2 separate regions of the Homo sapiens genome follow, and region 2 is linked to region 1. A link means that fine-mapping ties the variant in region 1 to the expression of a gene that starts in the linked region. Tissue or cell type: whole blood. Region 1 holds a variant in brackets; the other region holds the start of a gene. All regions are shown on one strand. Distances are from middle to middle.

The links. PIP is the estimated chance that this variant, and not a neighbour inherited with it, causes the effect.
Region 2: DOCK10 starts here. The variant in region 1 is fine-mapped to the expression of DOCK10 in whole blood (TOPMed, PIP above 0.99).

What each region holds. Positions count from the first base shown.
Region 1 is chr2:224,978,957-224,986,956 of GRCh38, reverse strand. All of the region lies in intron 1 of DOCK10 (dedicator of cytokinesis 10), which reads left to right. Among named protein-coding and RNA genes, the nearest start is that of MIR4439, 28 kb to the left of the region's middle. The variant A/T (reference allele first, on the strand shown) is at 3,284.
Region 2 is chr2:225,037,636-225,054,311 of GRCh38, reverse strand. DOCK10 (dedicator of cytokinesis 10) reads left to right here and starts at 11,844. Exons shown (of 56, transcript NM_014689.3): 1 at 11,844-12,060. The coding sequence starts at 11,938. RefSeq lists silencers at 11,448-11,817, 12,008-12,247 and an enhancer at 12,798-13,137.

The sequences.
Region 1 (8,000 bases):
AAGGCGGGGGTTAATTCAACCTGGGGGAATTAAGAGCCTTTCTCCGAGGAGGTGATGATTCCCTTGAGGCTTCACTGTTAGAATATGGTTTTCCCAGGCAAGGTCCTTGTATTGGCCTGCTAGGGTACTAGGGCTGCTCTAGCAAAACACCACAGACTAGGTGGTTTAAACAATAGAAACTCATCTTCTCACAGCTTTAGAGGCTGGAAGTTGAAGATCAAGGTGCTCTTAGGGTTGTTTTCTGGTGAAGACTCTCTTCCTATCTTGCAAATAGCACCTTCTCACTGTGGCTTCATATGGCCTTTCCCTTGTGCACACATGAAGACAGAGAGAGAGAGAGAGAGAGCTGGTGTTTATTCCTCTTCTTATAAGGACATTAGTTCTAGAGGATGAAGGCCCCACCCTTATGACCTCATGAAACCTTATTACTTTCTTAGAAGCTCTATCTCAAAACAGAGTCACATTGGCGCTCAGGGTTCCAACATATGAATTTTGGGGGGACATAATTCTACCCTTAAACTCTTAGCCTTTCCATAAATTTATCTTTATAAATAAGTTCTGATCATGACCTTATTAGGATCCTGAAATGGACCCACCAGAAACTCACAGTGTGTGAAGCAATGAAACCAAGCTGCATAGCATCAGGGATATCCAAAAAGCCCTTGAGGCTGATTTTGTTAGGCTTCATTTCTCAATTTTTTATTTCTCAAATATTTTATCTAAGCTCATCTTTGTTTTTACAAGACAAGCATCTGTTAGCAGCAGTAGTTTTCCGTGTACTTGATGCCTTATAGAGGATAGCAGAAAACCTCTCCCCATCCAAGGTCAGCATTATGTGTCAGAAGACTCAGATGCACCAGGTCTTTTGGGGAGGAGAAGAATGTGGGCTTCACCTCCATCATGCCAAAGCACAGTCCAATTTGACACGGTCAAAACAGACGTAGGTATTTTGCAATAGATTAGATATATAGATTTAGACACACGGCTCTTACATAATTTAACAAAGCTGGGAAGGTCCAACACTTTCAATGGACATTATTTATTTAAATTAAATGTGTATTTCCTTGCCCATTGTAAAAAGGTCTTTGGACATATTATCCCAGTGGTGGATATATCAACATGTACAGCCAAATCATTCTTAGGCCAAAAGATTTTAGAAAAGTGCTCTGAAAACTAAATTCATTAGTCAAGATTTGTTGAAGAAGGATGGGCAGTCTACAGCTGGGTAGGTGGACCCCTGAGGCAGAGTCCAGTATCCTCCTAGGATTCAGTACGATTTTGGTGGTTTTTGTTAGTCCCTTCATTCGTTTTTCTCTTTTTTTTTTTCCTCCTTAACCTCCTTTTACTCTCTTGAAATGCCTTACTTTTTCTTCCTACATGTCTTTCTCCCTGGTCAATAAGATGTTAAAAACATCTCCCTCCATCCTTCCTTCCATTTCCTATGAGCATTAAGGCTACTACAGTCTACACAACACGGCTATCTCTGCTTTGAAACAAGAACATTTTTTATTGTACACAAATTTAAGATTTCATAAGTGCTGAATAAATTTTTATATATGAAATAACATACAATAATATGATATAATATAATATATAATTAATGACCCAGGATGAAATCTAGCTTCCAACACTTCTTTGGAAAATTTAGCCTTACGAATTGTTAGTGACATTATTTCCTAATCTAAGACAATTACTTTAAAAATCTTGTTTCTAGCATTTTAGGTTTAATAAATACCTTATTGAATCATAAGATAAGACCCTACTAGGGGAAGAAGGCAGACAAGAGAGTGAACAAGAATCTCCAAAGGTCATTTATTAGTAAGGCCGTGCACATTTGATGTTTGGAGGCCAAATTAATGATTCATCTTATTAATAGTTCAAATAAAAATAGCAGACACCTGCTGAAGAGTTTATACCTAATCTTAAAATATTTCCTGCTTATCAAAAATTAGCCAGGTGTGGTGGTGCACACCTATAGTCCTAGCCACTCAGGAGGCTGAGGCACGAGAATCACTTGAACCTGGGAGGCCGAGGTTGCAGTGAGCCAAGATCCTGCCACTGTACTCCAGCCTGGGCGATAGAGCGAAACTCAACCTCAAAAAAAAAAAAAAAAAAAGTTTCCTGTGTGTCATATGACAGAAACATGGCCTCTGGGTAGGTTTCTGTGTCTCCCACAACCCAACCCAATCTCTAGCTTAATTTGCTATGTAAAACATAGAGCTCAGAACCCAAACCCTTTCTTGCAACTTTCCTACATGTTTGGAATCTTTCATGAGAAAATGTTGGAGAACATACTCAACTCTTCTTTCCTGCGTTTCATCTTTTTTATTTCTTGTCCACTGGATAATGGTTGTGTGTATTGAATTCCAAAGAAACTAATCCTTGGACATTCCTTTAGCTTGATAACAGAGGCTAACAGAGAGAGGAGACAGAATGAGAGAGAGAATATTCAGAGCCTGTCAGCAGCCCGTCAATAATAGGGGTGAATTCCTCAGAGGCAGAGGGGATCGATAAAGGCGGGACTGTAATAGCTAGAAAGCATCTCATTTGTCTCCCTAAAGACTTTGGCATCTGCCAAAACATCTGATTCCAAAAGCCACCGCAGAGGTCAGCCAGATTTAGAGAGAGATGGTTAGAGAGGAGTTTAGGATGTGAAGTGCATCGTGCCTGCCAAGCCCATGGTGGATAGCGGAGGGATCTGTCTTCTCTCTCCAGTTTCTAACTGGGGCTGGTTTACTATTTAAGCGTTTCCAGCTAGCAGCTTGCTGCCTGCAAACTACGCAGCCATGAGCAGATGATCACAACCTACGGAAGTGATTGGAGAGAGATATGTCCTGGGGGATGGGAGTAAGTGGGTGGGGGTGGGCACTGCCATACAGGGAGCCCAGAGGAACTGTCCTATTTGAAAAGACACATTCACAAACAGAGGAGCCCACTCTGCCCTTTGTCTCAAGTGGACACCATTAGATATAGATATTCAATACACACAAGCCAGACAGGCTAAGTCGTAGCCTCTCTTCAGTAAATGCCCTAGTTGTTTAGAGTAAAAATGGTTTAGATTAGCACCCGGGCAGTCTGACAAATGTCCAGAGGGAGTTAGGGGACTTGCCAGCATCATTAGCATTTTTTTTCTTCTTTTTCCAGCAGCACTAAAATATGTTTGCTCAAAACAGAGGGAGATGAAAAACTACTGGCAGCCAGTACTTCTTAAAAGAAAAAGAAGCATGTTTTACTTCTCTGGGGTGAACATACCAATTAAAACGATGCTGTGTTGTGACAGATT[A/T]CTGAGCAATTAATGCCTGTTTGAGCATCATGCTAGATGCTTCCGCGAAAGCAACCTCACTGAGGCTGGGGCGGCCACACGTTACAGCAAAACAATCCTTCCTCAAACTTCCTGCAGCACCCTTCACGCCGAGGAGCCCAGAAACCACAGAAAACATTTTTTTTTCTTTGAATCTCCAAGAGTTACACTGGAAGAATTAGCTTGGCAGAAAGATCTCAAGATTGAATTCTATTGGGGATTTCATACTTTCCTCATTTGTAAGCAAAATCTATTTTCCATGAGATATTTTTAGCGCAAGCAGCTCCAGCTGCCCTATTCCCTTTCACTATACCATTAGATGTTGAGGCCATTCCAGAAAGGACACGTGATTTCTAAGCATCTCTCTTTGGTTCTTTCCTAAGTGACTAGTCTCGCAGGAGTCAGGGAATACCAGACTCTTAACTACCAAAGACCTCAAAGTCCTTCCCAGAGCCTTGAATTCTTATTGATAGGATGTTAAAATGCTTTACAGCTGCTTTTTCTAAGAGGTCAGCTTGGCGGAGCTTGCTCAGTGACCTCAGTAATAGAGATATTTTCAGCCCTGCAAGCCGCGTATGTAAATATAAAATTGTATTAGGCTGCAGAACTGCATGTGTGGGAACAGAACAACCATACTATTGAGAGGAAATCACAGGGGAACACTGGTGTCTCTCACTCAGGGCTGGTTAATGCGTGCATACTTTGGTTAAATCATCTTGATCTAGTGAACTCTATGTTTCAGATAAGCCAGTTTCATTTCTGGAACTTATGAGCTATGAAAAGTAAAACCTCAATCACTTAGTGAGATGTCCAGCAAAATTTCCTTCAGGAAGTGTTTACGTTTATAAAAAAAAAAATCATTTTCACTCCTTACATGATACCTCAGGAAAAATTGTGAGTGTAAAGTCAGGTTTTCAGTTGTGTGATTTGAAAAAGTAATTTATTTGTGTGTCTGAATGGGAAAGACATATTTATTCAGACCTCTGAAAGGAGAATCGAAGAGCTTCATTGTAATGAACAGGAAACATGCTCTCGATGTGAATTGAGAAATACTTTCTGAGCGCAGTGCTCTAATATTCCTGAGTGTGTTCAGTTTCCGTGGATCAAATCTTTCCCATCTCTGCATCCAAGCTATTTGGCCATGATCAGATGATCAGAGCTCAAGGAAGTGATTGGAGAGTGAGCCGGCTGCAGCTGCAGTGTAGGCTGTTTTCAGGGACAAGGAGCCACTGTTTTGCAAACATAGCATCAACATAGAAGTTATTTTGTAGGCTCCAGGATGCAGCGATGGGCTGCACTGCCAGCATTGTTCTGCTTCAAGCTTTTCGTTCTGTGGTCCAGAGGAGCTGTCCACACATTTGTAGACGACGCCAAGAGGAACCATCCCACGAAATTTTGCCTCTGGAAAGTGACGATGAAATGAATAGACCCAGAACCCTCATCATAATGGTATGGTATCCGTGGTAAAGCAGCCTCAGTGGATTGAACTGTTATTATAGAGAGGTTACAATTTAGGGGTTTTGGTGTTTAGCGTTAGATAAAGGCATGTGTGACCTAGAGTTTACTACTCTGAAGTACTGTTTGGGGAAAATCTTTCGGAACTATTTCTATCATTCAAAGAGCATATTTTCTTCTTCTTGTATCTGTCATGAAACTGTACAGCTTCTCGGTCTACCAGAAATTCTCTTCTGCCTCATGGTTTGCATGTTGTTATTACCTTTTGTGCAGAAAATAAGAGAAAAATTTGGAGTTTGGTTTAAGTGAGTGGATTTTATTTTATAACTATAATTTGAAAGAAGAGCCCAAAATGGGCGTTTTTTAAAAATCACATGTAACCATTGAAGTTGTATAGATGCTGATAGTTGGATCTTTAACTTCAGGATATTTGGGGCTTTTCTTTCTGACTCTGCAAAGGAAATGCCTTTCCAGAATGCCTAACTTAGGCACAATATTAGAATAAAGAATTAAGAATTTTGTAGAATGCATAGTGTTTTCATTAGAAAGCTTTTTCTTGCCACTTGTCAAATTACATTTTTGTCTGTGCTTTAATTGTAATAAACAATGTTTTCCTTTTTTGTGCATCTGTTTGATCAGCAAGAATAAATTTGAGGGTAGAGTTCTTTCTTTCTTTAAGTTTAAAAAGAGATCTGCTTAGTCACTAAAATTAGAATAGATGGTATGGTAAAGTTTCCAAAATTGAGGAGACATTGAAGTCTAGGTGGCTTCAGCATAATCGACTTTTTTCTCTTAGATTTCAATGTTGAGATATCAAGGATGTAGTAAATAATGAATGAAAAATACCTGTTACTCTAAAAGTTCTTAAATGAAAGTCATTTGGCTTGGGCTATGCCTCTGAGTGACAGAATACTAAACTATAACATTACTTGCCTACTTCTTCAACAAATCAATATTTTATTTTCAAAAAGCAATATTATTCTTGAACTAGGGGGCTGTGATTATTTCTAAAAGGAAACAGTAAATAGGAATAATTTCATGTTTATTATTCCCATAAGTTTTCACAAATTAAATTTTAAAGGATTTGAAATAGGTTCAAATGTCAAAGAAATCTTTGTTTTCCAAGTTTAACTCTTGTTAATAACATTAACACACTCTTTAACTATGTGTAGTGCTCATGCTATACCAGTAAGTCTTATTTTTCTAATTTTGTTAGTCTATAAAATTTCACAGCTAGAAATTTGCAAAAAAAAACCTTATACCTCAAAATAACTGAGAAATTTTTAAAAACTATTCACCTAGTCATATTTTTCCAAGGATCCTTTTGATTTATATAATACCTTTATTGATATTAAATAAGGTGATAAGAATATACTAATGAGGAAAATAAAGGCTCAGAAAGGTTGAATATCTTAACATTACACAGCTGCTAAATACCAGTTCCCCGAATCACACTTAGAGCAATGATTCCAAAAGCCAGTGTATTTTCCAGTCTGTTCACACTTCTAAGGAAATAATGATAACCGATAAACTGAATTTATGTAAGAAGTCTGATGGAAATCTTGGACTACTCTGAGTAAAATGTGCTCATACAAAGTCATTGTGCATCTTGAAAATTTCTTCTGGGCCACTCCAAAATTCACACACTCGCTAATGGTTTATTGCCAGCCCACTATGGTCCAAGCACTGGTTCAGGCACTTGGAATCCGCCAATGAACAAACCCATCAAAAGTCCCTACCCCAAGTTGCAAAGTTTGAAGGTGATAGAACATTTTGCCAGTGTTGTTGTTATGGAAATGCTATACTACAATTGTGACACTTAGTCTACAAACTTTAGCCAATGAAAATATTTTCTGTTTTCCAAGATGGTGGTTTGAAAATTTATTGTATTTCAAAATCACCTAGGAGTTTTCATTCATGCAAATCCTTGAGCTCTTGACCCCAAAGACTCTGTTTGAGAAGGTGTGGAGTGGAGCTCAGGAACCTGCTCTTGTAGCAAGCACTCCCAGTTGATTCTGACGAAGGAGTACTTTGGATGACACTTTGAGAAACATGGCTCTGGAAGATGGTAATCTAAACTGTCCACCCCTTCTCCTCCTCCAGTGTGATGTTCTTATATTGGCTAATCGTCTTCTTACTCTGGCTCTAAACTTCTGAGCAAACTTTGATTTTTCTTTTTTATTCACTTTCCCACTGCCCATTAGTCACCAAGTATTGTATATTGATTTTTTTTTTTTATAAGATCACAGACTCTGGAGCCAGAACACCTAGGTTGGAATCCTGACTTCATCACTTATCAGCTGTGTGACCTTGGGCATGCTGTTTAACATCTCTGTGTCTCTTTTCCTCTCCTATAAAATGAGGATAGAAATTTTATCAAATTAGAGCAGTTGTATGGGTTTGATAAAGTAAGTGTTAAGTGCTTAGAAAAGTGCCGGGATGTAACGGTAAGACGTTCAATAGGGATGTGATCAGGGACATCCTAACTGAAAAGTGGCATTTGAGGAAAGACCCTAAGGAGTCAAGGGAATGACCCATGCCACTTTCAGCAGGGAAATGCCTTATGCAGAAGGACCCGCCAAGGCGAAAGGCCCTAATGTGGGAAGAAGCCTGGAGTGTTAGAAGAACAGAAAGGAGGCCAGTGTGTCCAGATGAGCCAAGGAGTGGGTCGTAGAAGGCAAGGTCAGGGAGGCAATGGGGTCAGATCATGTCAGGCACACAGCTATCAGGAAGACCTAGGCTTTTTCCAAGTGAGAAAGGAAGCCACTGGAAGAAGCAGGCCCAGAGGTTAAGAGCCTGGGCCATGGAGCCAGAATGTCAGGGTTTGAGTTGTATCTCTGCCACTCACTAGCTGTGTGATCTTGATGAATGACTTGTCCTCCTTGTGTCTTTGTGTCTTCATTGATAAAATGTAAAAAGTAACAGTACCTACCGGTGTAAGGTTATTGTGAGAATTCAGTATGTTAATAGGTGCAAATTGCTTAAAACACTGACTGGTAACTAGTGAGTGTTATATTAACTATAACCCCACTAACTGGGAGGTCCTGAAGCAGGGAAGTAACAGGATCTCTGGCCATAGAGGGTCAAGGGTCAAAGCAGGGAGACCATTAATTAGGAAGCGGTTGCAATGATCCCAAAGACCTGGATGGTAGTTGTTGAGGCTGTGAAAAGTAGTCAGATTCTGGATAGATTTCAAAAGTAGAACCAATAGAGTTTGCCTATGGATTGAATATAAAGTGTGGGA
Region 2 (16,676 bases), 63 kb before region 1:
AATATACATCCAACAACTGAATTAAAGCCAATTAAGTAGATTCACACACTAACTACTAGGTTTGACTTTCACAGGTAAATGTCATCCAACTGATCAAAATTGGTTGGATAAATATTGAAGCAAAGGCCAGGCACAGTCGCTCACGCCTATAATCCCAACACTTTGGGAGGCTAAGGCAGGTGGATCACCTGAGGTCAGGAGTTCGAGACCAGCCTGGCTGATATGATGAAACCCCATCACTATGAAAAATACAAAAATTAGCAGGCGTGGTAGCAGGTGCCTGTAATCCCAGCTACTAGGGAGGCTGAGGGAGGAAAATAGCTTGAACCCAGAAGGCAGAGGTTGCAGTGAGCCAAGATTGTCCCATTGCACTCAAGCCTGGGTGACAAGAGTGAAACTCCATTTAAAAAAAAAAATATATATATATATACACACACACACACACACACACACATATAGAAGAAAACAAAAGCAGAAAAGGGTAGTGCCAACCTGATGTCTGTATGGAATACATATACGTGTGTGTGTGTGTGTGTGTGTGTGTCTGTGTGTATTTTTTTCTTTTTTTTTCTGAGACGAGTCTTGCTCGGTAACCCAGGCTGGAGTACAATGGCGTGATCTCGGCTCACTTCAGCCTCCTCCCCCTGAGTTCAAGTGATTCTCCTGCCTCAGCCCCTTGAGTAGCTGGAACTAAAGGTGTGTGCCACCACCGGACTAATTTTTGTATTTTTAGTAGAGACGACGTTTCATCATATTGGCCAGGATGGTCTCGAATATTTTATTGAGCCTTGGGACTCATACTCAGGTGCTTTTAAGTAGCTCCAGTCTAAGCATTTCTGTAACAGCAAACAGGCTGTGTGGTAGTGTTAGGAAGGCCTCTTGTTAATGTCAGCTTGGAGCTTTGTGCACATGATGACACTAATAGCACCTTTTTAAAAACTACAAAAAGTACTTTGACTTTATTATGAATTTTTAGACTAGTTGCATGATAATGACTCTCTCATTGCTTTTAAGATTTCAATAAAAATAGCTATTTTACTTCTTTTTGTCCCTCTAGCAAATCAACAAATAAGGAGAAAGGGGACAATATTCATGATTAGCTCAGAACAGAAACACATTTTCAAGCCTACACATGAGAAACTGCTAAAAGATAAAGCTACAAAAAACCCTAATCTAGTTGTATTAATAAATTCTAATGATCATGGGGGGAAGAACAAAAACCCACTGGCTTTTATTTGAATAGACATCCCCAAGACCAGTCAATCTGCCATTTTTGCTTTGGGCTTCAGAAATGCTGCACAGTTTGCATTGCTTTCCTTCCTCTGCCTTACACCCTTTCAAAAACTGAGCTCTGGGCAATGCTGTGATATTTCTATTTCACTTCTTTTTACCACAGCAAGAGCAAAGGCAAGCAGAGTCCATGCACAGGAAATGGGTTAGTGCAAATACAAGTATACACAAAAACCACATGACTGGAAGGGAGCTGTGACAACTGAAAGATATTTTTTAAGAGAAACATTTCCTGGAAAAAAAAATGGTTTCTTTAAATCAATTATACATGTACATAAACAAACCCAAAATATGTTTTCTCCAACTGTCTTCAGCTCACTTGATCAGGGTATGAAATTAATGTTTTGAAAAACTTCAGAAGCCTTATAAACTTTGTAGCATTCATCTAAAACTTTGGAAGTGTTAATGTATTTCTTTCTGAGACTATTAGGAAAAATGCTTCCTCTATCTCTTTTAAAAGATAAACAATCACATTTGATAAGTATACATTTGGTATAACGTTCTCTGAATATGTAAGGAAAACAGCAAAATAATGCTATGACTTCTAATTATTGAGCAACGTGCAATATTAAAAACAACAAATCATATATGCATATATATTTGATGAAATACTTGTATCCAAAAAATACAAATTAAATTTAAAAAACCAGTAAGAAAAAGACTGACAATACAATTTAAAATGGGCACAGAATTTGAGATTGAGATTTTCTGTTTTTTTTTTTTCACTTTAAGTTCTAGGGTACATGTGCACAACATGAAGGTTTGTTACATATGTATACATGTGCCATGTTGGTATGCTGCACCTGTTAACTCATCCTTTACATTAGGTATATCCCCTAATGCTATCCCTCCCCCATCTCCCCACCCCCCAGCAGGCCCCAGTGTGTGATGTTCTGTACCCTGTGTCCATGTGTTCTCATTGTTCAATTCCCACCCATGAGTGAGAACATGTGGTGTTTGGCTTTCTGTCCTTGCGATAGTTTGCTCAGAATGATGGTTTCCAGCTTCATCCATGTCCCTATAAAGGACATGAACTCATCCTTTTTTATGGCTGCATAGTATTCCATGGTGTATATGTGCCACATTTTCTTAATCCAGTCTATCATTGATGGACATTTGGGTTGGTTCCAAGTCTTTGCTATTTGGAATAGTGCCACAATAAACATACGTGTGCATGTGTCTTTATAGCAGCATGATTTATTCTGTTTTCTTTTAATTTGGCTTTTTGTATTAGACTTTCTTTTTTACTAATTTGCTCATTTTTTATATTTTTCTTGTCCGTTAGTAAGAGATCTTTATATAATAGAGATATTGGCTTTTCTTGTTTATTTGTATTACAAACATGTACTAAATTATGTCATTTATATACTGGCATTTTATTAATATTGCCATAATGAAGATTTAAGATTTTATGTATTTAAATAGTACTATATTTTCTTCTATAGCATCTGATATTCCTCTCTTGGTTAAGAAAATAGCTTATTAATGAAAAAAATAAACAGTACAAAGTCAAACTAATAAAACAACTACAAGTTCCTTGAGGAGACTACTACAGTAGATAATCCCTCTTGAGAACCCAATTAAGGAAAAAAGGAGGAAGTAAAAATATTCGAGATTAAGAATGAGAAAAGCGATTAGCCACTAATTGAGGAAGGATTTTAAAATCTAAAAACTTTCTGCACAGCAAAGGAAACAATCAACAGAGTGAAAACACAACCTACAGATTGGGAGAAAATGTTCTCAAACCAACAGAGGGCTAAATCCAGAATATACAAGGCATTCAAACATTTCTACAACAAAAAACAAATAATCTGACTTAAAACATGGGCAAATGATCTGAACAGACATTTCTCAAAAGAAGACATACGTATGGTCAAAAAATATATGAAAGAATACTTAACTCCACTAATTATCAGGGAAATGCAAATCAAAACCACGATGAGGTATCATCTCACTCCAATTAGTATGGTTATTATCAAAAAGACAAAAAAATAACAAATGCTGGCAAGGATGTGGAGAAAAGTGAACTCTTATACATTGTTGTTTAAGAATGTAAAGTAATAAAGCCCTGTGAAGAAGAGTATAAAAGCTCCTCAAAAACTACAAATAGAACTACCGTATGATCCAGCAATCCTACTACTAGGCATTTATCCAAAGGAAAGGAAATCATTATATGAAAAGCATTTGTACCCCCATGTTTATTGCAACACTGTTCACAATAGCCAAGATACGGAATCAACCCAGGTGTCTGACAACAGATGAATGGATAAAGAAAAAGTGCTATATATACACCATAGAATACTATTCGGCCATACAAAGAATAAAATCCTGTCATTCAAGGTAACATGGATGGAACTAGAAGATATTATGTTAACTGAAATAAGCCAGGAACAGAAAATTAAACCACTCATGTTCTCACTCATATGTGGTAGCTTAAAAGAGTTGATCTCATTAGAACAAAAAATGCTAGAGGCTAGGAAGGGTAGGGAGAAGGAGAGAAAGGGAGTCATTTGTTAAAGGATAGAAAATTACAGCTAGATAAAAGGAATAAGTTCTAGTGTTTCATAACACTGTAGAATGACTATAGTTAACAATAATGTTACTATACAGTTTCAAATAGCTAGAAAGAGAATATTGATTATTCTTAACACAAAGAAATGGCAAATGTTTGAGACAATGAATATGCTAATCACCCTGATCTGATCACAGTGCATTGTATAATTGTTATGTGCAAATTTAAAAAAAATAATTTTTTTAAAGTATGTATTTTAAAAGGCTTCAGATAAAAAGCAACAAATTAGGCTTGGCACGGTGGCTCACGCCTGTAATCCTAGCACTTTGGGAGGCTGAGGTGGGCAGATCACGAGGTCAGGAGTTTGAGACAAGCCTGGCCAATATGGCAAAACCGTGTCTCTACTAAAAATACAAAAATTAGCTGGGCATGATGGCGCGCACCTGTAATCTCAGCTACTCAGGAGGCTGAGGCAGGAGAATCGCTTGAACCTGGGAGGCGGAGGTTGCAGTGAGCCGAGTTCGCGTCAGTGCACTCCAGCCTGGGCAACAGAGCGAGACTCTATCTCAAAAAAACAACAACAACAAAAAATTAAATGTTAGCAAAAGATAACAAAACTTGGAATAACTGGCTTGGTCTCTTCGAAAAGTCAAAGTCATTATCAAAAATGGGAGGAGAATGGTTTCAAATTAAAGTCTTAAGAGACATGACAACCAAAGCAATGCATCTTCAAGATTAAATTTGAGATTGATCAAATCAGCTGAGAAAAAGTTATTTGGGGGACAATTGGAGAAATTCAAATATGACCTGGATGACAAAAAAAATGAAGGAATTGTTGTTGAATTCAATGTGTTAAATAATATTGCAGTTATGTAGGAGAATATTCTTACTTTTTGGAGATAAATGCTGAGCTATGTAGAGATGAAAGGTCATGATTTCTCCAATTTAAAATAGTTTAATATACCTGGAGGATTTATGAGTATTCATTGTGTTCTTTGTAATACTTTTTAGCCATGTTTAAAATATTTATAATAAAATTTTAAAGAATACATAACAGAAGGGAACACATATCATTCAGTGTTACATGCAATTCTAAGGCAAACATTTCTAAAATCTAGAAAAATGGGATGATATTATTAGTAAAATATAAATTATTAAGAAATAAAAGATGTGAAAAATCTTGAATAGACCAATTACCATACAAGGGATTTGAAAATGATTATAGATCTCCTATTAAAAAATGTACCAAAACCAGATGGTTCCACAGCTGGATTGTATCCAACCATTGGAGAACGAATAAGCCCAATGTTATTTAAATTGCTGTAGACCATGGAAAGAGGCAGAAAGCTCTCCAATTTAATTAAGGAAGCCAGAAAAATCTCCCTGGCAAAATGTCACATTAGTTCCAAAAATAAAAAAGGTAGACCAATGTCACTCATATGTGTAGATGCAAAATTCTCAATGAAATATTAGACAACAGATTTATTTTTATGTTGCTCTCTTTAAGAAACAAAAGAAATAATTATGATAGAACTTTTTTACATATCAAGTTCTATTTCTGTGAGACTAGTAGATATCAGGAGTAATCACCACACTGGAAAAATGGAGGAGAACATTAAAATGTCTGGAAAAATAAAGTAAGTACAAGGGTTTAATTATGCACGTAAGAAATAAAAATGTTCCCATCTAATATTTACTAATCTTTTCCTTCTTCATATGGAGCCAAAATCTGCCTCTGAGTAACTTTTACAGATGGAGGAAAAAAAGATCCTGGGACATTAATTCCCTTAGGCTAGACTACAAATAAAAGCCAAAGTAGGATAGAGAACCTAGAGACTGGTTGCCAGTTAAAAATAGTCATTCTTTTCTTTCAATCATGTACCTCTGTTTGCACTATGCCCCAAGGATTCTGGTGGACTAATAGTGATAGAATGCCACACTGCATGCGTATTGGCACGATATACAGCCTGGCAGTGTTTCAGATTCAAATCATATTACTTTAAGTGTAATTTTCTCCCAAGAAGTGATCTGTCTTCTAAACACAGTAAGAAATACATATCAGATTTAATACCTTTTTCCATAGACAACATGGAGGCACTCAGCTTTTTCAGATGGCTTCAGCTCCAGCAAGAACTCAAGAACTAATAGACCCCATTAATATCATACCTTTCAAACCATATTTTTCTTGTAGCTCTTTAATATTCTCTTGGTAAGGTTAGGAAAAATGTATCTTATGAAATAGTATTCAGCCAAAACACCACTGGATGTACATTCAATTGCTTATTTTTTTCTTAGTGTTAGGAATCAAGATGTGCTGTGGCAAAGTATTTTTCCAACAATTTGGTTTACAATTCTGATACTTTACTTATTGCTGAATATGACAAGCATTATACTTTCAATAAACAAAATTATTTTAATTTACCCACCCAATTACACTACTACATTATCAAGGCAAGTCACCTGCCTCTGTGGACCTCCATTTCTATTGTAAAAATAAGACAAATATACTTTTCCCTTAATAAAGGAAGGTTTCCTCAAAATTGACAAATGGGATCTAATTAAAGAGTTTCTGCACAACAAAAGAAACTATCATCAGAGTGAATAGGCAACCTACAGAATGGGAGAAAATTTTTGCAATCTATCCATCTGACAAAGGTCTAATATCCAGAATCTACAAGGAATTTAAACAAATTTACAAGAAAAAAAGAAACAACCCCATCAGAAAGTCGGTGACGGATATGAACAGACACTTCTCAAAACAAAACATTTATGTGGCCAACAAACATATGAAAAAAAGCTCATTCATCACTGGTCATTAGAGAAATGCAAATCAAAACCACAATGAGATACCATCTCACTCCAGTTAGAATAGCGATCGTTAAAATGTCAGGAAACAACAGATGCTGGAGAGGATGTGGAGAAATAGGAATGCTTTTACACTGTTGGGAGTGTAAATTAGTTCAACCATTGTGGAAGACAGTGTGGTGATTCCTCAAGGATCTAGAACAAGAAATTCCATTTGACCCAGCAATCCCATTGCTGGGTATATACCCAAAGGATTATAAATCATTCTACTGTAAAGACACATGCACACATATGTTTACTGCAGCACTATTTACAATAGCAAAGAACTAGAACCAACCCAAATGCCCATCAGTGATAGACTGGATAAAGAAAATGTGGCACATATACACCATGGAATACTGTGCCCCCATAAAAAAGAATGAGTTCATGTCATTTGCAGGGACATGGATGAAGCCGGAAACCATCATTCTCAGCAAACTAACACAGAAACAGAAAACCAAACACCACATATTCTCACTCATAAGTGGAAGTTGAACAATGAGAACACATGGACACAGGGAGAGGAAAATCACACAGAAAACCTGGAAGACAGGTTGATGGGTGCAGCAAACCAACATGGCACATGTATACCTATGTAACAAACCTGCACGTTCTGCACATGTATCCCAGAATTTAAAGTATAATAAATAATAATAATAATTAATAAAATAAAATAAAGGAAGGCTTCCTATAATATCAGAAAACCATTTTAACTTGGGCATTTGTATTCCTATTTCTGTATCTTTCTTTTTTATTAATTAGCAAAATTTCCCTCCTAATTTCCATGCTATCAAATTCTCTCCCAGCTTTCCCTTATGTACGGTGGGGGCAATATCACATGTCCCATGTGCATTTTAGAATGAATGATTGAGAATCAAATGAAATAATGAGTGTGCTTTGTAAATGGTGCAACACTAGACAAACTTGATATAGTTAAGCACTGGGACATGGTGATGCCCAGGCTGACACCCAGGGTACACTGGGCTTGGTATCACTTAGGAAGGGTGGCTCAATGCCATGGAATGGATGCAAGGAGTATTTGCCCCACCTCCTACAATCTCTGGGTATCAAGATCTAATTTAGTCATTTAGTGTGCAAATTTAGTTATTCGTCCAAGAGTCACACTCCTAGACTAATAACTAAATTTACACACTCTTATGTCTGTAGGTATTTTGGAAAATATAGTACAGTTTTCACATTTATACTTATTACTGCTATGAAAAAATTTCTGAAGTCTTTCCTTGCTGATAAGACATGGACACAGTCATGTAGAAGGATGACAGGAGAGGGCTATTGACAGTTGTGGTTTCTTAATTCTATAAAGCTTTGAATTGTACCAGGTCAAGTAATCAGTGCTTACTACATCTTATGAAAGTAAGTGATGCTTTAGTATGAATAAGAAGAGTATCAAATTTTAAAGAAGGAAGAAGGGAAGGAAGGGAGGAAGCAGTGAGGGAAGGAAAGAAAAGGACAAAGAGAGAAAGGAAGAAAGAAGAAGAGAGAAAAGGAGGTAAGTAAAGAGGGGAAGAGAAAGAGAAGGCTAGAAAATTCCATGTTATTGAGACCAATTTTTTCAATCTTATTTAAAAAGTCATAAAAATATGAAGTATAAAATGTTAACATGGGTCCATAGACGCTCCATCTCCAAAATCTTACTCTCACCCCCTACCCACTCACCCATGAGCACCAGTAATGTTTTTTAAGTCAGTTCCTCTGTATGAAATTGAGCTTTTTGGAGACAGAAACATTTTGCTCAGCTCTGTGCCCTCCTAGCATAGTGTGAGATCCTGTCCATAGTTGATATTCCATAAGTGTCTGTTGAGTGGGGTTATTTCTTCCTCAGTGAATGGCTTGTCTCGTGACAACTCAAATGAATTGGCAAATTCAAACACTGATAAAACTTGATTGCAGCCTCTGCATTCTATGTATTAGTACAATCTTGATTTGAGAACATTTAGCAAAATTTGCAACCACTGGTTTCTAAAATGTCTGTTCCATGCATTTGGGGAGCTCTTTTAATGATCCATCTACAATTTTAGACAGCGAGACATGGGATAGATGGGCTGAACAACCCCATTTTATAATATATTAAAATTCAAGTGAAATAATATATGTGAAACTATTATCCAAACTGTAGCACATTATGTTATAGTTACATATTGTTACACAATAGTGGGTTAATACTATAAGGATTACATTGTTATTGTTATTCTTGTTCATGAAATTCCATAGTCATTGATTTGGGTTAAGACATTGTCTCCAGAATGCTCATTAAATCCCCAGCCTTGGCTCCAAGATAATACCCATCCATCCTTCTTCTCGCAAAGGTTCATATGAGAATCAAATATATGAAAAGACATGGAAGTTTGTTTAATTCCTGAGTTATCTGCAAGTGTAGGAATAATAACAGGGTTCATATGAGAATCAAATATATGAAAAGACATGGAAGCTTGTTTAATTCCTGAGTTATCTGCAAGTGTAGGGATAATAACAGTTATTGAAGTCCATGTGCTAGTCACTTTTGAAGAAATTTACACTAATTTAAGTAACTCTCTCAGCAGCCCAGCCACACAACTACTATCTTGATTGCGTAGGTAAGAAACTGAGGCTTACGGAGTTGGGATTTGAACAAAGGTAATTGGACTTCAGAGCATGTATTTTAACCACTATTCTACAATATTACAAGCCCTTGAAGATTCTCTTATTAACTAGCTGTTCCAAGAAACTTAACATACTTCATGATATGTGCACAGATTTGCGTTTACCAAGCATCTGAGCCGAGTTTCTCCAGGGATCTGAGAGATGGGTGGCCAGCAGAGTCAAGGTCCCAAATCAGCAGACCTGAAGTTACATTTCTGTAGCAAAAAATAAGTGTATTTATGCTACAAGGGCAGGGGCAAGGGTCGACACTCAGCTCTCTCTCCTTGGTGCCCGAAGGAAGCTTAACTAAAACCTACATGATCATAAGGGCGGAGGAGAGTCTCTGAAGTATCATTATTGACATGCCCTGGGTGTGAGAGGTATGCTATCAACACTTAAACCTGCCTTCCTACTCGGTGTGACCCACGGAATTAACATCATACAGGGTATGGATTGGGCAAACAGGCATTTGTTCGTTAAACCCTCTCACACCAGTGCTCTGGGTGACCTCCTGAAGCTGGAAAAAGTACAATTAGGTGTATTAATTGTACGATTAACAAATTGTAAGTGACTTTCTGTTACTCGATATTGTTGGAGATTGGGTTGTGTGTGCTACTCAGTGTTTTGGATCAGCGAGTTGCCTTGTGCAGGGCACATTCTGATGTATTATCGATTACTATAGCCTTCCCTTTCAGCACACCTTTCTCTTCTCCTCTCTGACTTTCTCTGTGTCAGGCACACCCAGCTCTCTGACTGCACTAGCCCATCTGAGCCCTTTGTAAAGTCATCCATAAGCTGATATTTATTGAGTGCCTACGTGTGCCAGGCAGTGTTTTGAAACCAGAGACAAAGATTAGGTACCTCTTCTTGGGAAGCTCAAGTTAATTCAAATGTGCTTAATCGGTTCTCTCAGGGGAATATGCATTCAGAGACATCAAGTCTGGGTACACCTGGGAAAGGGTACGGTTGGAGGGAGCTGTTCCTACAGAGATCTTCATGTACCAACACAGAGGCAACCACCTACTTTGCTTACCCTGAAAGGTGGTGTTGCTCCCACACTGAGTACCAATATGAAAGCATACAATACAGGTACAGTTATTTGTTATGCAGGCTGTCTTGGAACTAGATGATGTTTCAAATGGCACTTCCCAAATCTGCCAGAGCCTCTTACCCTCTTACGCCTGTTATGATTTCTAGAATGTGCTGAAATGATCCCCAAACAGCATCTCTGGCTAATTGAATCCTGGCTAACAAAGAGCTGACTAAAGTGCATTTATCAATTGCTTAAGAATTCTTTATACCCAAATGTGACCTTGTGTTATAACTATCTATCATTGGCTTTAGAAAGTGGCAGGGTCATGGATCCATAAAAAGCTGTTAAGAAAAAACCAGACCACTTGGAAAGGCTGTCCCAGATCTCTCCAGACCAGTATCCAGGGGCCAGAACTTCTCTGCCCCCCATCCAGTCCAACACTGAATTGCAGAACCACCCTGGGTATGACCCAGGAAGAGACTTCTTAGAAGGCTTTCATCAGATACCTATCTAGAGGCAAAGTGCAGGCTAGATGGGTATGGGCAAGAGAAGAGCAGAGACAGCATAACTGTGAAATCCACCCCCGACCTGACCACCCTACATAGTAACCCTGCCAGTTGGTTCTTGCCTACTCATCCTAATGCCACCCAAAGTCTCTTACCCCCAGAACGCTGATTTATTGGTTTTGAGTTCGTGTTAGTAGCTTAAACTGTCTCCTTGATTTCTCTGTATTTGTTTATTTGTTCGCTTGGTTACTTGCTGTCTCCCACCCCTACCCCGAAAAAACCTATCAGCTCTACACAGCCTTAAAGTGTAGTTGCTAAGTTCCTCTCCGTATCCTCAGTTTCCAGAACAGTGTGAGCTGGCATATAGTAGGCGCTTAATAAATACTCATTGAAGGAGTGAATGAATGGGGAAGCTTATTCCAAGGCCCTGAACATGGACTTCTGGCAAGGGAGCCTTCCAAACGCTGGCTTGGGCGATGCTGCTGGGATCCCAGCCACCAGATCTTTAATAAGCCTCTGACCCCTTCCCGAGGGTGGAAGGGCGAACCGAGCTTGGCCCCCACCCACTAGCCGGACCCAGAAAATAGAAGTCTAAACGGCAAATGCATCCAGGGCTCCAACTCTCCCAGCAACCTCCAAATGAGGCTGACGGCCTTGGACAGGCGACGGCCTTGGACAGGCCCCGCCCGGAGCCCCTCGGCGGCCGCCCCCCGCCCTCCCCCGCAGCCTGCAGTTCCCCCGGGCGGCGTGGACAGCCCCGGCCGGCCAGCTGAGCCCGTGTGGGCGGCGCGGGCAGGAGCCGCCCCACACGCGTCCCGCGACGCCCGCTCCAGATGCGCCGCTGCAGGGCCCGGCCGCCAGCCGAGTTGGCCGCGCGCGCCCGGGGGAGCGCAGAGTTTGGAAAGTCTTCGAGAAGCTTCAGAGGAGGGAAGGGGGTGGGAAGAGTGGGGGTGCAAGAGAGAAAAACCCGCCTCTTGCGAGTTGAGCGAGGAAGAGGGGGGGGAAGGCTCCGAGTTCCGCTTCCTGAACGGCGGGTGGATAGAGAAGGTTGGCGCGGGGAAGACCGGCGGGAGGCGCGCCCCGGGCCCGCGGCGCGATTGGCGTGACCGGCGATGGCCGGTGAGCGGACCCGCAGGTTCACCCGGAGCCTGTTGAGACCTGGGCAGGCGGCCGAGCTCCGGCACAGCGCCGCGTCCGCCGCCGCGGTGGCAGTCAGCAGCCGGCAGCAGCAGCGGGTGAGTGCGGCGCGTCCTCCGCGCCTTCCCGCGCGCCCCAGGCGCCCGGGGGGAACGGAGCCCAGCTTCCCCAAAAGCTCGGCGGGCCCAGGTCCCCGCAGCTCACGGGTCCTCTCCTCCGCACTCCCTCCCCCGCCGCCTCTGCGGGCTCCCCCGGCGCCACCTCAGCGAGGCAGCGCCACCGACGCGTAAGGACCGGGGGCGCGTTTGTGCACGCGGGACGCTCAGAGGAGCAGCTGCGTGGGTAGCAGAAGCGCAGCGTGGGAGAGGATGTGCAGGGGCTTTAATGGGGCGCGAGGGGGCCGGAATGCACCGCCAGTCACACTGGTGCTAAGTGATACGAGTGCCAGAGACCCCGGGTGGGGTGGGGGGATCTACAGAACAGAACCCCTGAGTCCGGAGGTCTGCGCGTCCCTCTCACCCTCCAGTAAACAGACCAGTGCGCTGAGAGAGAGGGATGCAGTCCGTGGTCCTCGCCCTGGTTAGAGCTGGGGCCCCCCGACGTTAACTATCGCAGAAATAGATGTACTTGGAACAGCCCTCCCACCGCAGGGTAAAAACCCACAAACCACTTAATACTCCTCCAGAAAGGGCTGAGGAACACAGGCTGGAGGAGACGTGGGTCATTAGGTCTCCAGCGGTTTCTGATATTTTTCTAAGATGTTTCGCGGGGTTCTCCCACCAGCAATGCTTTACTGGTTACTTCCTTATTGAAACGGCTTCTAAGTGCTGGGTGATTTCCGCGGGAAGTCCCTGGGGCAGCAGCCAGCATCTGATGCTAGGATCCTATCCATACCAACCCAGATGTTCCTGCGTTGCAGTAGGTCCACACTGCCGGGGAGAGGTGGCAAGAGACAAATCAACTCTAGTGGAAACGGGAAGCGAGTGGGAACAACAGCCTCACAGCAAGACCGGGGCTCAGCAGCCGCGCTCTTGGCCTGCGTTTGGTGGACCGGAATCCGGGTTGTGTGTTTCATTTTCTTTTTTGCCAGAAAATATCATTAGGAACTAAACGGCTCTTTTTAAGAGTGTGAAAGTGTTACTCTTGCCAGTCACCAATGAGGAGGGCGCCAAAAGCTTCCCAGAGCCAGTTCCCACAGCCAGGACTATTCTCTAAAGCCAGAGGTCGGAAAGTTGAACAGAACGGAAGCAAATTGCCTGGCAGAGGGAAGAGGCATCGGGTGCCCAGGGGGTGTAGAGCGGGCGGGGGTGATTGGAGTGTGAAACGAATTGGTGGCCAGGGTGCCTTCTCTTGCACTTACACTAGCTGCAGTCCGCAGTTACCCAGAGGTGGTTCAACTGTTAGCTCACTCTGTGCCAGGGACAGCATGTGGTACTGCTATCAGCGTGCACATTTTCAGGACACCAAAGACAAACTGTTCAAAAGAACATTAGAAGAAAAGATTCAATTCGAGTAAAAGTAGAGATAAGAAAATCTCCACACAGTAGTAGAAAGTACTTTTTACTTTTGAATGATCATTCAGAATTGTGGTTTTGTCATTTTCTGCCATTCCCTTGACAAAAACTTTATTTTGCAATTGACTCATTGGACTGAATCTCACTGAGGATCTGATGGAAACACACAGCGTTCAATTGGAATAAACAGCTTAAACTGTTGTGTGTTTTTTTAAATGTAGATCCTCCTAGAATTTTTGTGGCACTAGAATTTCTATAAAGATTATGTATCCCAGATACCCTTCTACACCACACACACACACACACACACACACACACACACGCACTGCTTTCTCCAAAATTATGTCAGATTTGAAATCCTAGGGTATCTTGTCAAAATGAATAAGCTCGCTGTCTTTAAAAAGAGGTGGGGGAGGGGAGATTCAGTGGCAAAGGTGGTCCTGACTCCCCTTGCTTCGCTTCAGCACCTTGGCCAACACTCCTAAACTAGCTTTTGCCAAGACATTTCATGGGATCTTACACATCTAGGCAGGCAGTTTTGGCTGCTATTTTGGCAGCAAGAACGCATGTGCTTTGCATACTATCCCATCAGTTAACTCTTGAAGGGAAACAGGAAGGTGATGAGTTCTCTGAGCTGGCACCTGAACTCGGTGGGATTCTGTGGGTGTAGAGCATCCCTTCTGAACCTAAAACCGTGTCATTGGACTATGTGGTAGAGACTAATCTTAGCGTACATTGATGCAATCCCTTAAGACTCTTCATATCTGTTGCTTCAAGTTCTCAAAACATGGTTGTCAAGGGAGAAAAATGATAGGATGTTGGGGAAAATATTATGGATATCCGACTTCAGTACAGACTCATAGAACCGCGGGTGTGTATTGGAGCAAGCCATCCTCTATTGCAAGGTATTTGAAAGAGACTAGAAACTCCTGCTGAGAAAAAGTATCTTACTGCTAGATTTGTATATTCCCCTTTCTGAAATCCCTGTCTTGGGGACACAAATCCTCCAGGACATTGCCAAAAGATTGCCATAGGGTTTGAATTCTGCTCTCTCCAATAAGTTTAGGTAAGGTTGTCAGGTTAACAAGATAGTTTTCTTCCCTGAGAATGGGGTGTGTATACAGAGAGAGAGAGAGAGAGAGAGAGAGAAGACAGGAAGCCTTCAAAATGTGTTTGAATATGGAGAGGAGAGATCAAGGAGATGCTGAGTGAGGGTAATGACTGGGAAAGCCAAATTTTAAGGCAGTTGTTGAGGACAATACAGGTGTATGCCAAAGCAAATTTGATGTCAGTTTTTACCCAAAGCACTGTATGTAGTAGGCTTATGTACTTGCAGACTCCTAGACACGAACCACCTTATTCTTCACCCCTCCCAAGAACAGTAATGAACAAAAACATACATTTCAAAAGGAGAAATATTTGCTCCTTCATTATCCTAAAATTCCCCATAGAAAATAAATGAAAGACAACTCATTCGAAGATCAATTCAAAGGATCATGTCAAGTTCTCATAATTTCCTGAAATCTCATTCCTGATTGTTTCATAAAGCAAGCTTCTCTAGGGTAGAATTTCAGCCCGAAAATGATTAGAAACATTTGTCTCATATCAGAACTGGAGTGTTTTATTACATTGGTTGAATATACATACCATGTTGGCTTCAAAGTTGTAATGCCACTAATTAGAAATTCCTTTTTGATAAGAAGCTCATCTTTTAAAATGAATGAAGTGTATCTGTACCCTAGCATGAATTAGTTCATTTAGATAGCTTTCTATAATTCATTAAGATATACATTTAGGATTTGTGCACTTTTCTGCATATATATTGTATTTGAGAGCATTTCAAAAGAAAAGACTTTTTAAAAAAAGTATAGGTAAACTTTTTGCAAACACCCCATCAGATCTGTCACTTTGAGAGAAATGGAGTTTTATTTATGGAATGTTTTAGGTGGGTTAGTGCAATGGAAGGCTTCAGATAACCAGAAGGATGAGATCTACATAGAGTCAGATGATGGAAAGGAAGCATTTACTAGAGATCAAATAATCATTTGGTCAGTTTTAGCCCAAAGCCGTTCATCTATTTCCTAGACTGGAGCTTACCACTTTAGTTACATGCACTTTTAATGCCTTTATATTTACTCTATTATTAGACAAAAACTCCTTTGCAACTCCTTTTTAATTGTATCTAATTTTGTTATTAACTCATTTTAAAGAGAAAGCATCCTGCCGGAAGTGATTATACTTAACCAGGAGGTTTTCTCCCTTCCTACCCACCCAGAAAGTGTAAGGGGTAAAGAGGGGAAAGTATTTATTTCAGTAAATTCCATTTCCCTTCTTTGATGTTTCCTAACTCTTCAGACCTCCAATAATACCACTTTTGATATTTTAGAGAGCTTTGAGTAAGAAGCGGAACCTTTGACCAACCAAAGAGCTTTGATTGAGAAGTAATGAATATGTAAACATGTTTACGTGAGCGTGAGGAATTCCTAGAAGGAAGAATTTTCTCCCCTCTGAACTTGGTGGCATTCAAGAGTTGAGAGTAGGAGGGATTTTTTTTTTTTTAATTGAGTGGGGGATACTGGAATTTCCCAAAAGTCATATGCTAGATGCAGAAAGTGATAGCAAATGAAAGTGAAGCACTTGTTTTGCTGTCGCTATCCAGATTTAAAAGCAATATGCAATATAAGGGCCTGGTTGTTTAGCATTCACAGCACAGTCTTTTTATTTTGTTTGTGTTTTTTGCTTTGTTTTGTTGTTTGTTGTTCTGGACAGAGTCCTTTATGACAAGGGTGTTTATGGTTTAGCAGAAATCACACGGTTATGTTTTCATATGAGGAAAGTCCCTTGACCTCTTTGCCTGGAGAAGAAGTCAACACAAACTTAGTTTACAAGATCAAGTTTGAATGTTACTTGTGTGTCTGCCAATGTTTTTTATTTCTCAAGGGCATTGGAGAAATAACTTTGAAAATGAATAGTAACCACAAGTAGGTTCTAGAAAACTTCTAGAAGGATCAAAGGCTGAAAGAATGAGTCAACATGTATAGGTTTTGGCTTTTTCTCCACAACCAGATTCTCTAAGGCCTAGCATAGAAAAAGAAAGCAATAATGAATGCATTAAGGTAAATAATTTGTTAAGAATGTACGATGTGCCTGGCACAGTGTCAAGCATTCTATTTAATTCTCAGAGCAATCATTTGAGGAAG